Regions from separate parts of the Homo sapiens genome. Here all the other regions are linked to region 1. Evidence: fine-mapped expression QTL. A gene starts in region 1. Each other region holds a variant in brackets. All regions are shown on one strand. Distances are between the middles of the regions. Region 1 holds the start of FAM193B (family with sequence similarity 193 member B). Region 2 overlaps FAM193B (family with sequence similarity 193 member B). Region 3 has its middle 66 kb from the start of B4GALT7.

Evidence for each region. PIP is the estimated chance that this variant, and not a neighbour inherited with it, causes the effect.
Region 2: its variant is the best candidate, but not a certain one, in a credible set for the expression of FAM193B in whole blood (TOPMed, PIP 0.62).
Region 3: its variant is the best candidate, but not a certain one, in a credible set for the expression of FAM193B in whole blood (TOPMed, PIP 0.77).

What each region holds. Positions count from the first base shown.
Region 1 is chr5:177,552,490-177,556,672 of GRCh38, forward strand. It overlaps FAM193B (family with sequence similarity 193 member B), which reads right to left and starts at 2,074. Exons shown (of 9, transcript NM_001190946.3): 1 at 1,760-2,074. The coding sequence starts at 1,969. It overlaps FAM193B-DT (FAM193B divergent transcript), which reads left to right and starts at 2,139. Exons shown (of 3, transcript XR_941274.3): 1 at 2,139-2,440. RefSeq lists silencers at 1,243-1,352, 1,683-1,892 and enhancers at 1,773-2,276, 2,003-2,162, 2,183-2,332.
Region 2 is chr5:177,520,568-177,524,750 of GRCh38, forward strand. It overlaps FAM193B (family with sequence similarity 193 member B), which reads right to left. Exons shown (of 9, transcript NM_001190946.3): 6 at 3,618-4,183; 7 at 3,390-3,465; 8 at 1,407-1,504. The coding sequence ends at 1,408. Among named protein-coding and RNA genes, the nearest start is that of DDX41, 5.7 kb to the left of the region's middle. The variant T/C (reference allele first, on the strand shown) is at 1,754.
Region 3 is chr5:177,663,646-177,667,828 of GRCh38, forward strand. It overlaps the pseudogene SIMC1P1. Among named protein-coding and RNA genes, the nearest start is that of B4GALT7, 66 kb to the left of the region's middle. The variant C/T (reference allele first, on the strand shown) is at 2,314.

The DNA.
Region 1 (4,183 bases):
GCCATCATCCAAGCTTTTTGGCATCTCTATGTGGCAGAGACCCTGAAGTATTCTATGGTCTGCTGAATGGGAAGAAGAGAAGACAACAGCTTTCCAGCTCTCCCTTCTCCCACTCTCCCTTTTTGGATAACAGCACTCCCACGGGGGTCCCAGAGTAGGCTGGTGGGGGAAGCAGCTTTGGGGTTGGAAGCTAGACCCAGTAGGGGTTGGGGGTCCAACCTGGGGAGTCTCCTACGGAAGTGTCAGCCTAGGATAGGAGATGGGGATGCGGATGAAGGTGGAGCTTCTGACACTCAGTAAGTGCTGACATTTTCATTAATTAAAAACCTTATTGTGATCTGAGACACAAAGGAAATCAGCATGAAAACTGGGTTACAATAAGCACGGGTTCTGGACCGATTCATTTTCTCTCTCATTCACCTAGTTATTTTTATTCTGTGTTAGCAAGGCCCTGGGCGAGGCGTGGAAGATCAGAGAAAGATGGCATAGCCTGTGTCCCTGTGGAGTTCACAGTCCAGGGCAGGCAACAGACATATCAACACAATGTTTCATCACAGAAAGGGGAGTGCTACCAGAGGGAGGCACAGAGGGCTGTGGGCACAGAGAGGGCACCTGACGCAACTGGGGAGGTCAGGGGAGGCTTTGTGGGAAGGTACCCCAAACGGCAACCCCACTCACATGCACAATTCCAGAGATTCTACTAGAAGGCTGTCAAGAGCCATGCCTTCTGGCTGCACCAGCCTCCCAGAGTCCCCTGCTGCCCGATGCAGTGTCTGCAGAGCCAAACGCATCTTCCGCCACGCCTCATCCTCATCCGGCGCCGCATCCGACCCTCCAAGACTCCTGCAGGAGCCTGCCTTCCTGGGCAGGCTCAGCCAAAAGACCAACTCAAAACTCTTTTGTCAGAGCAAGCTTAGGGAGAGCCACCCAGCCCCGAGTGCCACAACCCTCCCAGAGCAACCGTGGCCCATGTCACCCCCGCCTCTCAGTGAACTTTGGCAGGGTACCTCCCGTTATCTCCTTTGCTCAAAAGAAAGTGACCTTCTTCCAGGTGGCAAGCTGGAAGCTTTGGGGAATCCTCCTACTGTTCGCTCTCAGCAGGATTCTCCAAACCTGGGATCTCAAGGTCGGGGTGGGCTGCCTTGCGGAGCAGGGGAGGGAAGAAGGGCAGGTTCTGCTGGGTTTCCACCTCAGTGCAGAAACCCCACCAAAAACTCCTCCGGGCAGCCTGGCTGTCTGCTCCAACTGCTCTGCTGGGTATGGCGAGGAGGCGCCAGGAGACACAGCTGCTGAGGGGGCCGCGGCTGCAGGCGCTGCAGGGGACGGAGTGGAGCCGTTCCCGGGGGCAGAGGGAAGAGGCTGCAGTCGTCCAGTCCCAGAGCCCCGAGATGGCCTGTGGCTGAGGGAGCAGGTGGGCCCGGGGGAGGTGGCGGGCCGAGAGCGGAGCTGCGGCCTCGGGATCACAGCCCAGTCCCAGTCCCAGTCCCAGTGTGGGTGTACGGCCGGAACGCCCGGAGGCGGCGGGGAGAGGGGAGCAGCTTCAGCCTAGTCGCAGGAGCGCGGACCGAGCCTCGGCTTTGGGGAGAGGGGTCCAGCCTCCATTCCCGCCCCGGGGGAGAAAGCTTCGGCGCCGGACCCGGGGGAAGGCTGCTACCCCAGCCGCGGCAGGATGGCCCATCCCCAACCCCGCCCCACTCCCGCTCCCGCTCGGGGAAGGTGAAAGCGCCCGAGCCGCCGAAGTCTCCCCGCTCGCTCCTACCTGCGGGCCGGGCACCAGGTTGGGTTCGTCATCCTCCCTGGGGCCGTCGTGGTCGGGCTCCGCCGGCGCCTCCGGAGGGCCTGCACCCGCTCCCGCCTCCAGGCTTGGCGGCGGCGGGGGCTCGGGCGCCTGGGGCTTCTGCGGCCCCGCGGCCCGAGCCCGCTCGCGCCTGCCCGCACCGCCGCTCGGCCTGCTCCGCCTCCGCGTCATGCCGCCGCTCGCGCCGCTCCCTCGCTCCACACGCCGCCGCCGCCGCCGCCGCCGCCGCCGCCGCCGCCGCCGCTACCGCTCCCCTCACAGGACAACAGCCAATATGGCGGCGCCCGGTTCCCCCCCTCCGCCTGCTGCCAACAGGTCAGAGGGCACGCGGAGTCCGCGCCGCCGCACTAGCCCCCGAGGCCGCCTGCGCCATTTTGAATAAGGTCACCACCCGGAGTTCGCTGGGAGAAAAACTTGGTGGGGAGACGCCCTTCCCCCCCTACGCGGGACGGGAAGGATGCAACCTGCTGGAGGAACGCGTGTAATGCGGTGGTAATCGCGCTGCACCACCCTAGCACTTAATAATTGCCTGTTAAATGGATGAGTGAATTAATTTCTATAGTGTTACAATACTTTCACACCCATCGTCTGACTCCTTCCGACAGCACAGCGAGGCAGGTACGGATCATTCCCATTTTGCAGGTGAGAAATATTGAGGCAACATAAAGGCCTGGAAAAGGTTGCTGTACATCATTTTGTTGGAACTCCTGGGCTCGTGGACGGCCTGAGTTGAAAGGGACGAAGGTCTTTATTTGCAACATATGGTCTACTGGGAGTCCAGCGTTCTGTGCTTGGGACAGTGGGACTCAAACCCGACTCCTTGTTCCCGAGTCTGATGGGGAAGGTAGACACGTAGGTACATAGTTACAACCGGTGTGATAACGATGAGACGACTAGGTGTTTCCAAAAAAATAGTATGTGCAGGAGAGGATTTTGGAGTGGTACACAAAGGAGAATTTTTAAAACTTAATAATTATGTATTTAATTGTTAAAAATGGAATTTCCCCCCTCTTTTTGTGAATATACTGTATAATACATGTACATGGCACAGATTAAAAAAAAAAAGTTTTGAGTGAAGTCTGTCTCATGCCTGGGCTATGTACTCTGAAATTGTGGTTATATGCAGAGTTGCTATTGGTATCAACAGGGGCGGAATCCTGACACTGGCTTCCTAACCCATGGGGCAAGGGCTATTTTGAAAGGAAGAGCTACATGGAAGGCCCTGGAGCTCTCCTTAACTACCAAGAAAATAAATCAAAAATAGTACCTTATCTCACCCAGGGATTAATGCCACTATCAAAGATTTGAAAGACGCAGGGTGAGTCCCATCACATCACCATTACCTCTTCAGTTTGCCCAGAACAGAAGAGAGACGGCCTTGAAGAACAACAGAGCATTATGATAAACTTACTTATTCTGGTAAGAACCCCAACTGCAGGCATTCTTCCAGATGCGGTCCTTCTTGGGACAGATCAGCACAGTTGTTGGTCTCTAATAGGCAACAAGAGGTCTGGTCAATGGTTATTCTTCTGTACCAAACACCAGGAATCCCTTGCATTGATCTGGCAGGGGCAGCGGTAAACCCTCACTGTCTTGCTTCAGGGTATGTCACACTCTGGACCCAGCCACTTAGTTTACAGGGATTTTTTTTTTTTTTTTTTTTAATGACAGAGTCTCACTCTATCTCCCAGGCTGGAGTGCAGTGGCGCAATTTCAGCTCACTGCAACCTCCGCCTCCTGGGTTCAAGGGATTCTCGTGCCTCAGCCTCCAGATTAGCTGGGATTAGAGGCACATGCTACCACGCCCCCTAATTTTTTTGTATTTTTAGTAGAGACGGGGTTTCCCCGTATTGCCCAGGCTGGTCTCGAATTCTTGACCTCAGGTGATGCACCTGCCTCGGCCTCCCAAAGTGCTAGGATTACAGGCGGAGCCACTGCACCCTGCCAGTTTACAGGGATTTTTTTTACTAAATCTCCATTCTAATGGATATCAGGCTAATCTGCTGAGGCACTGATGACATCATCTTGATGGACCTTAAGAAAAGGGAATAGCAGATATCCTGGATGATTTGGTAAGGCATGATGTGTGTGCCAGAGGATGGATAATAAATCTCACAAATATATAGGGGCCTCGCAGTAAGCCATCTAGGAGTCTGGGATATGTTGAGATATTTCGTACAAAGTGAAGGGAAAGCTGCTGTAGATCACACTCCCTACTAGGGAAGAGGTGCAATACTTGGGCTGGGGCTTCTTTAGACTTGGTAGGTAACATAGATGTATTTCGATACATTATTATTATTATTATTATTATTATTATTATTATTATTATTATTATTATTTTGAGATGGAATCTCTGCCACCCAGGCTGGAGTGCAGTAGCGGGAT
Region 2 (4,183 bases), 32 kb before region 1:
CATCTTCTATCTTGGAAAAGAGGCCAGACCAGGTGAAAAAGGGTCAAGAGGAGGCAGTGGAAGGAGACAGTTGCATTTGATTTCTTGAATGACAGAACTGGGCTTGTGGGAGGAAATGCGATCTCTTTTCTCTCAGTAGGGATAACAGATGAAGTGCCTGGGGTTCCTGCTACTCCTGGTTCCCATGGAGGTGGAGAAGAGGCAGGAGGCCACCTTGGATCTGGAAGATACTTCTGGGGCTTGTGGGCATCTCAGTTTGGCAAAGGGGGCTGACTGAGCCCAACCCCTTCAGAGGAGAGGAGGACTAAAGTGAGTGTAAAGAAGACAGTCTGGACTCTGGGGCAGCACAAGGGTCACAGGGAGCCCCAGCTCTGAAGGCTGTCCTGGCTGCAGGCTCTCTGAGCTGCCCCTGGGGAGCTGAGGGTCCAGGAAGTTTGCTGCTTAGGCCCAGAGAGGAGCTGGCCTGGCACTGGAAAGAGGAGAAAGACAGGTGGGGCCATCATGGGGGAAGTGAGTTGTTTGTGAGCTCAGTCTGCCTGCCCCAGCCTTCCAGTCTCCAGGACAGCTGTGTGGTTGCCAGCCGGAAAAGGCCTGACCCCAGGGACACAGCTGAGGGTTGAGATATGAAACTGCAGAGCCACTCAGCCCCCAGCCCAAGGTCTGCCTGCTAGCTGCCCTTCTCTTCATCAATAGGGTTCCAGGCCCAGTGCCTTCTCCAGTTGTCTGTTCCCAGTCCAGATCATCATCTGGTACATCATTGTTTCAGACAAAAGGACCTGTGTGGGTGGCTGGGAGGGGATGCCAATGCCATCTGGCACCCAGGTCTCTTCCTCTAGGAGGCACTGTGGCTACCAATATCCTCATGGAGCTTGCCCTGCTTTGGGTAGCCCCCATCAACTCCTCCATGCCTAAATGACCCACGATGTTCACTCAGGGCTGGCCCCTTCTTATACTGCTTCAGCTGGGAAGTACCTTGGTAGCCTACACTGAGGAGCCCAGGGCAGGAAGTGGGACTTGACACAAGGACTGATAACATCAGGGGTGAGGGCAGCCCCATGGGTCTGATGGCTACCTGGGCACTTTTGAAATCAGCTGGTTAAGACCCTGATGGTTATGCCTTAGGAGATGCCAGTCCAGGAAGGGGACCTTCAGGAGCATGGGCAGCAGGGCCCAGGGAGGAGTAATAGAACAGAGGCCTACAGGTGAGTGGCTGCGGGAGGAGATGGGGCCTTGACCTTTGGAGGCTGTAGCCTGCCATTGCTGTGAAGATGCAGACAGAAGCCAGGGATCCCATGCCCCAAGTCCAACTCCCTGTGCCCCAGAGCACAGAATGGTCTGGTGAGCGTACAGAGAGGGTGGCCAAGCACAGGGAGAGGCAGTGGATGTAACTCTTGGGGTCTCTGTACCTCACTGAGCTGTGCTAGGAGTGGTTTTCTTGAGGCTGAAGTTGGTCCAGTTCACAGCAACTTTCTGACGAGTCTGCTTTGCAGAATCCAAACAGAACCTGTTGGGTTTGGGGGACACATGAGAAGCACAATCAGAGGTTCATTCTTTTGCTCACTGGACTCCTAAGGTACCATGTCCCCATCACTAAGAGACCAGGTTCTCTACAAAACCTCTTTGGCTCTCAGGTGCTAGGGTTTAGCAGGCATAGGAGCTTTGCTGGCTTGGGGGCTTCTGGATTGGGCCCAGGGAACTATGTATGAAGACAGTGAAACTGCCTTGGGATTCCAGTTCCTCCTCATCTGGTGTT[T/C]GATTCTCTAGCTCTGCTAGGCTGGCTTCCGTCATTCCCTTAAGTACAGTCGTCCCTCTGAATCTGCTGGGGATTAGTTACCCAGATACCAAACTCTGCAGATGCACAAATCCCTTATATAAAAATGGTGTAGTATTTGCATAAAACCTGCACTGCTCTTCCCATATACTTTTTTTTAAAATTACTATTTTTTTTTTAAATAAGAGATAGGGTCTCACTATATTGCCCAGGCTGGTCTTGAACTCCTGAGCTCAAGTGATCCTCCCACCTTGGCCTTCCAAAGTGCTGGGATTACAGGTGGGAGACACTGTGCTTGGCCTTCCCACATACTTTAAATCATCTCTAGATTACTTAAAATACCTAATACAATGTAAATGCTATGTAGTTATTATATTTTTATTTTTATTTATTTGAGACAGAGTCTTACTCTGTTACCCAGGCTGAAGTGCAATGGCACAATCTTGGCTTACTGCAACCTCTGACTCCCAGGTTCAAGCGATTCTCTTGCCTCAGCTTCCCAAGTAGCTGGGATTACAGGCGCCCGCCACCACGCCCGGCTAATTTTTGTATTTTTATTAGAGACAGGGTTTCACCATGTTGGCCAGGCTGGTCTAGAACTCCTGACCTCAAGTACCTCAAGTGATCCGCCTGCCTTGGCCTCCCAAAGTGCTGAAATTACAGGCATGAGCCACCACCTGTAAAAATACGTATTTTTTTGAGACGGAGTCTCGTTCTGTGGCCCAATCTCAGCTCACTGCAGCCTCCACCTCCCAGGTTCCAGCGATTCTCCTGCCTCAGCCTCCCGAGTAGCTGGGATTATAAGCACGTGCCACCATACCTGCCTTATTTTTCTATTTTTAGTAGAGACGGGGTTTCACCAACTTGGCCAGGCTGGTCTTGAACTCCTGATCTCAGGTGATCCACCCGCCTCGGCCTCCCAAAGTGCTAGGATGAGAAGCATGAGCCACCGCGCTTGGCCAAAAATACTAATTTTTAAAAAATTTGCATTATTTAGTAATGTATTGCTATTTTTTGTGTTTTGTTTTTTTTCCTGAATATTTTTGATTGCAGATATGGAGGGTGACTGTATGCCGTGTTTCTTTCACCCTAATCTTTTGTACTCACTGGCCCCCTTGGCATGAATACCTTTTCATCTTATCTGGCCAACTCATTCTTACTCTTCAGGTTTCAACTTGGTTACCACCTCTCCTGGGAAGGCCTCCTGGCCAGCCCCCACCCCTTCTATCCTCCCCAACTCTATGCCATTTATCAGTAGGCTGCATGTTCATGGCCAGACTCCTGGTCTAGACTGCTTCATTGACCTCAGCCCAGGCAAAGCAGAGAATGTGCAAGTGAAGACACAAAGCAAATAAAGCTGGAAAAAGCCCTGGTTCTTGGGGCCTGACATGCCTCCTCCTATCTCTTGCACCTTCCCAGATGTGCCATCCTGCCCAGTGGCTCCGTGGGTTTTCAGCAGGCAGGCTGGTGGGAGAGGGCCTGGGGGGGCGGTGAGCCTCCCCAAGGGGTCAGGGCCAAGGGAGCAGGCCTTTCTGAGGCTTGAGGCACAACACAGGGCTTGAGTGTGGGCAGGACCTGGAGTCCTCCACAAGTGGGAGAGCAGGCAGCCCACACCTACCTCTTAAAGTACTCCACCTCTCGGTCAGTCTCATCCATCTCCACCCCGTCCATGTCCTTGGGCAGGAACACATCGTCTAGGAAGACACAGCCAGGAGGGCTCAGTGCCCATGGCCAGGCCTTTGGGGTTATGCTCTGGGGGCAGCGCTGTCTACACACAAAGGCTGCCCCTCCACCCCGTGGACTGGCTGGGGTAGGGGGTCAGCCGCTCAGTTCCTGGTGCACTCACCCAAGGAGGAGGCTGGCTTCTCCTGCTTGTTGCGGCTCCGGCGGCTGCGGCCCTTGCCCTGGGGCAAGCTCTGTGGCCTTGCTGGGCCTGAGGGCTGCACAGACTCCTGCTCCTGAGGCCGTGCCTTGGCCTCGCCTGGCCAGTTTCGCCAGGAGCTGCCCTTCTCCTTCTCAGTTTTGGGACTGCCAGCCCAACCTGGTCCTGGCCGGCTCCCCCGGCTCCCCTCTCCAGCCTCAGCACAGCTGCCTACTTTGGGAAGCTCTAGGACCCTGCCTGGCTGCTTGGGGCCAGCGACCTGGCCCTTGGCACTGGGAACCTCTAGGCTGGCTGGGGGCCGGGGGGCTGGGCTTGCCTCGCTCTTCTTGGCCTGACTGCCCTGCCTCTTGCCCTTCTGTGGCTTCCCACCTGAGGACACAGGCTCAGGCAGCTCCTGCTTGCAACTGGGAACTTCCTTTGAGCTTGGCTCCTCGGAGCTGGGGTAGCCCGGCTTGGGTGTCTTGACCCAGATCACCCGGGATAGGTTGGGCACGGTGTTGAGTCTCCTCACGAGCCCGTTCTCGGGGACG
Region 3 (4,183 bases), 110 kb after region 1:
GACGCATAAAGAAAATGTGGCACATATACACCATGGAATACTATGCAGCCATAAAAAAGGATAAGTTCATGTCCTTTGAAGGGACATGGATGAAGCTGGAAACCATCATTCTCAGCAAACTAACACAGGAACAGAAAACCAAACACTGCATGTTCTCACTTATAAGTGGAAGTTGAACAATGAGAACACATGGACACAGGGACGGGAACATCACACACCGGGGCCTGTTGGGGGGTGGGGGGCTAGGGGAGGGATTGCATTAGGAGAAATACCTAAGGTAGATGATGGGTTGATGAGTGCAGCAGCCACCATGGCATGTGTATACCTATGTAACAAACCTGCACGTTCTGCACATGTATCCCAGAACTTAAAGAATAATAATAATAATAAATAAAAAATTAGCTAGGCATGGTGGCACTTGCCTGTAATCCCAGCTACTCGGGAGGCTGAGTGGGAGAATCACTTGAACCCGGGAAGTGGAGGTTGCAGTGAGCCAAGATCACTTTGCCTGGGTGGCAGAGTGAGACTCCATCTCAAGACAAACACACACACACACACACACACACACACACACACACACACACACACCTGAACTATTATACAAGCTGATTGGCAATGTTTTTGGGAAAACATCTTGATCAAATGAGGGAAATGTGAGTTGTCAGTATCAAAATGGAGTCACCTGGCCAGGCGTGGTGGCTCATGCCTGTAATCCCAACACTTTGGGAGGTCGAGGTGGGTGGATCACAAGGTCAGCAGTTCGAGACCAGCCTGGCCAATATGGTGAAACCCCGTCTCTACGAAAAATACAAAAAAATTAGCCAGGTGTAGTGGCACATGCCTGTAATCCCAGCTACTCAGGAGGCTGAGGCAGGAGAATTGCTTGAATCCGGGAGGTGGAGGTTGCAGTGACCCGAGATCGTGCCACTGCACTCCAGCCTGGGTGACAGAGCGAGACTCGTCTCAAAAAAAAAAAAAAAAAAAAACCTTGACAAATAGAGCTAGGGAAGGCCATGAAGGGAGGATTACTATGCACAAATGCCTGATAAGTACCACAAAAGGCTCTGCAAAAACCACAACCTTACAGAAAAAAATACTTCCATGAGGACATCTGCCCAGCAACTGCCTGCTCGACCTTGGACTGGAGCCACCCTTGTTATTAATCCTTGCAGATAACGATAATTATCTCAAAACAATTATGTAATCCTCCTCATTTTTCCTTTAAAAGCTTCTGCCTTCCTTTACCTCCCTGAATACACACATAGTTTATTATGGCTCACACACTCCGGTTGCAATGCCATTCCTGAATAAATATCACTTTCTTTTTAGATAGTCGCTGTCTGTTATTTAGGTTGACATAAGCATGACAACTAAGAAATCATAAAGAAAAGGAGTGGTAGAATTGACTATATAAAAATGTAAAACTTCTGTAATTAAAAAAACAAAATCAAAAGTTGAAAGAAAATTGTAACATGTATGACAGGAGGCTATATTAGTTTCCTAGTAAAAATTACCAGAAACTAGGTGGATTTAAGCAACAGAAATTTATCCCCTCACAGTCCTGGAGGCTAAAGGTTTGAAATCAAGGTGTCTACAGAGCCACGTTCTCTTGAAGGCTCCAGGGAAGAATCTGTTTCATGCCTTTTTCTTAGCTCCTGATGTCGCCAGCAGTCCTCGGTGTTCCTTGGCTTGCAGCTGCATAACTTCGGTTTCTGCTTCCACTGTCACATGGCGTTCTTCCCCTGTGTCTTCACATGTTCTTCTCATAAGGACAGTAGTCATGTTGTATTAAGGGTTCACTCTACTCGGCACAACCTCATCTTCACTGATTATATCTGCCAATGACCCTATTTCTAAATAAGGTCACAATCTGAGGTAGTGGGGGGTTAGAACTTCAGCACAGCTTTTTAGGAGATACAGTTCCACCTATACCAATCTTTAATATATAAGTAGATTTAACAAATGAATAAGAAATGTTGGCCGGGTGCGGTGGCTCATGCCTGTAATCCCAGCACTTTGGGAGGCCGAGGCGGGTGGATCACTTGAGGTCAGGAGTTTGAGACCAGCCTGACCAACATGGTAAAACCCCGTGTCTACTAAAAATACAAAATTAGCTGGGCATGGTGGCACATGCCTGTAATCCCAGCTGCTTGGGAGTCTGAGGCAGGAGAATCGCTTGAGCCAGGTAGGTGGAGGTTGCAGTGAGCTGAGATTGCACCATTGCACTCCAGCCTGGGCAACAAGAGTGAAACTCCCTCTCAAAAAAAAAAAAAAAAAAAAAAAAAAGGAAAAAAAAAAAGAAACATTATAATA[C/T]CGCAACAGAAAAATGGGCAAAGGACAAGCATAGGGAATTTGCACACATACCCTATGTGTTTCCAATAAACATAAGCAAGATGTCTGGCTGTACTATATGTGAGCACACTCCTTTATCTCCAACCTCACTAGCTGCTCTTCCTCCCTTGGGCTATGCACTATGGTGTTCCCTTGGGCTAGGTTCTGGATGTTCTTCCTCTTGTCACCTCAACCTAGATGATTTTATCCAGGTCAATGACTTCACTATAACCTATGCGCTAACAAGACTAAATTTGTATCTCTAGTCAGGACTTTTCTTCAGAGCTCTAAACTCAGTACAAATGTTATACTTGGCATCTCCAGTTGGCTATTCCACAGGCATCGTTAAGTTTTATACCTTCAAAACAGAACTCTTGAATCTTTCCTCTAACCCTGTTCCTCCCAAGTCTGCTTCATTTCAATGCATGACACCAACATGCATTCAGTTGCTCAAGCCAGAACTCAGGGCATCCTTCTTCATTCCTTCCTTTCCCTTGTTATCCACATCCAAGTTATCAGGACCTGTTGATTTTATTTACTAAATATCTACATCCCTCCACTCTCCCAGTCTGTACCACCACTCCAGTCCAAGCTACAGTTATTTCTGACCTGGACTACTACAGCCAACCTTCTAACTGATCTCCCTAATTTCACTCTTCCCCTCTTACAGTAGGGTGACTACACTTCTGCTTTGTTTGGGACAGTTCCAGTTTTCACCTGTTGCTTGACATCCTGGTCCAGTTAGCATCCCTTTTCATTTGCAAAAGTTTCCCAATTGGATGATAAATTATATGGTCTCCCTACCTTACCATCTTTTCTTTTCACAGTAGCTAAAGTCATCTCTAAAAAATGTAAATCAAGGCTAGGTGCAGTGGCTCACGCCTGTAATCCCAGCACTTTGGGAGGCCGAGGCGGGAGGATCATGAGGTCAGGAGATCTAGACCATCCTGGCCAACATGGTGAAACCCCGTCTCTACTAAAATACAAAAAATTAGTCAAGCGTGGTGGTGCGCTTGTAGTCCCGGCTACTCGGGAGGCTGAGTTGGGGGAAATTGCTTGAACCTGGGAAGTGGAGGTTGCAGTGAGCCGAGATCGCACCACTGCACTACAGCCTGAGCAATGCAACAGAGCAAGACTCCATCTCCAAAAAAAAAAAAAAAAGGTAAATCAAATCATGTCACTGTCCTGCTTAAACCTTCAAAGATTTCTTACTGTATTACAATAAAATCCAAATCCCTTATTGTGGTCTCCAAAGCCCTATAACCTAACCTACCTACTTCTCATCTCTTCTGACTCTGTCCATCAGTCGTTACACTGCAGCCTCACTGGCTTTCCATTCTTCCAGTAAGTCATGCTCATTCCTGCCTCCAAACTTTTGGTTTTGTTGTTCCCTTTGACAATGCCTTATTCATCTAGATCTTATAACTAATTTGTTGTCATTTTAGTCTCAGGTCAAATATTAACTCTTCAGAGAGGCCTTCTCTGAAAACACAATCAAATGTTCCCAATCCCACCAAAGTTACTATTATACTGTTCTCTTATTTGTTAGTTTGTTTACTGCCTATCTTTCCACAGCAGAATGTAGTTCCATTATCATCTTGTTCACCTCTGGTCCCCAGGGTTACAGCATATGCTCAATAAATATTTATTGAATAAATGAATCATAATAAAAAAATAATGACATCTTATGGAATCTGGCTATCAAACAGCAAAGATTAAAAGAACAAAAATACCGTATTTTTTCCCCTAACACTCTGTATTATCACCTGACATTACATTTATAGTGCTGTTTACTATCTGTGTCCCCTCAGTAAAATGAAATCTCCATGACGGCAGGGACTTGGTTTTCATA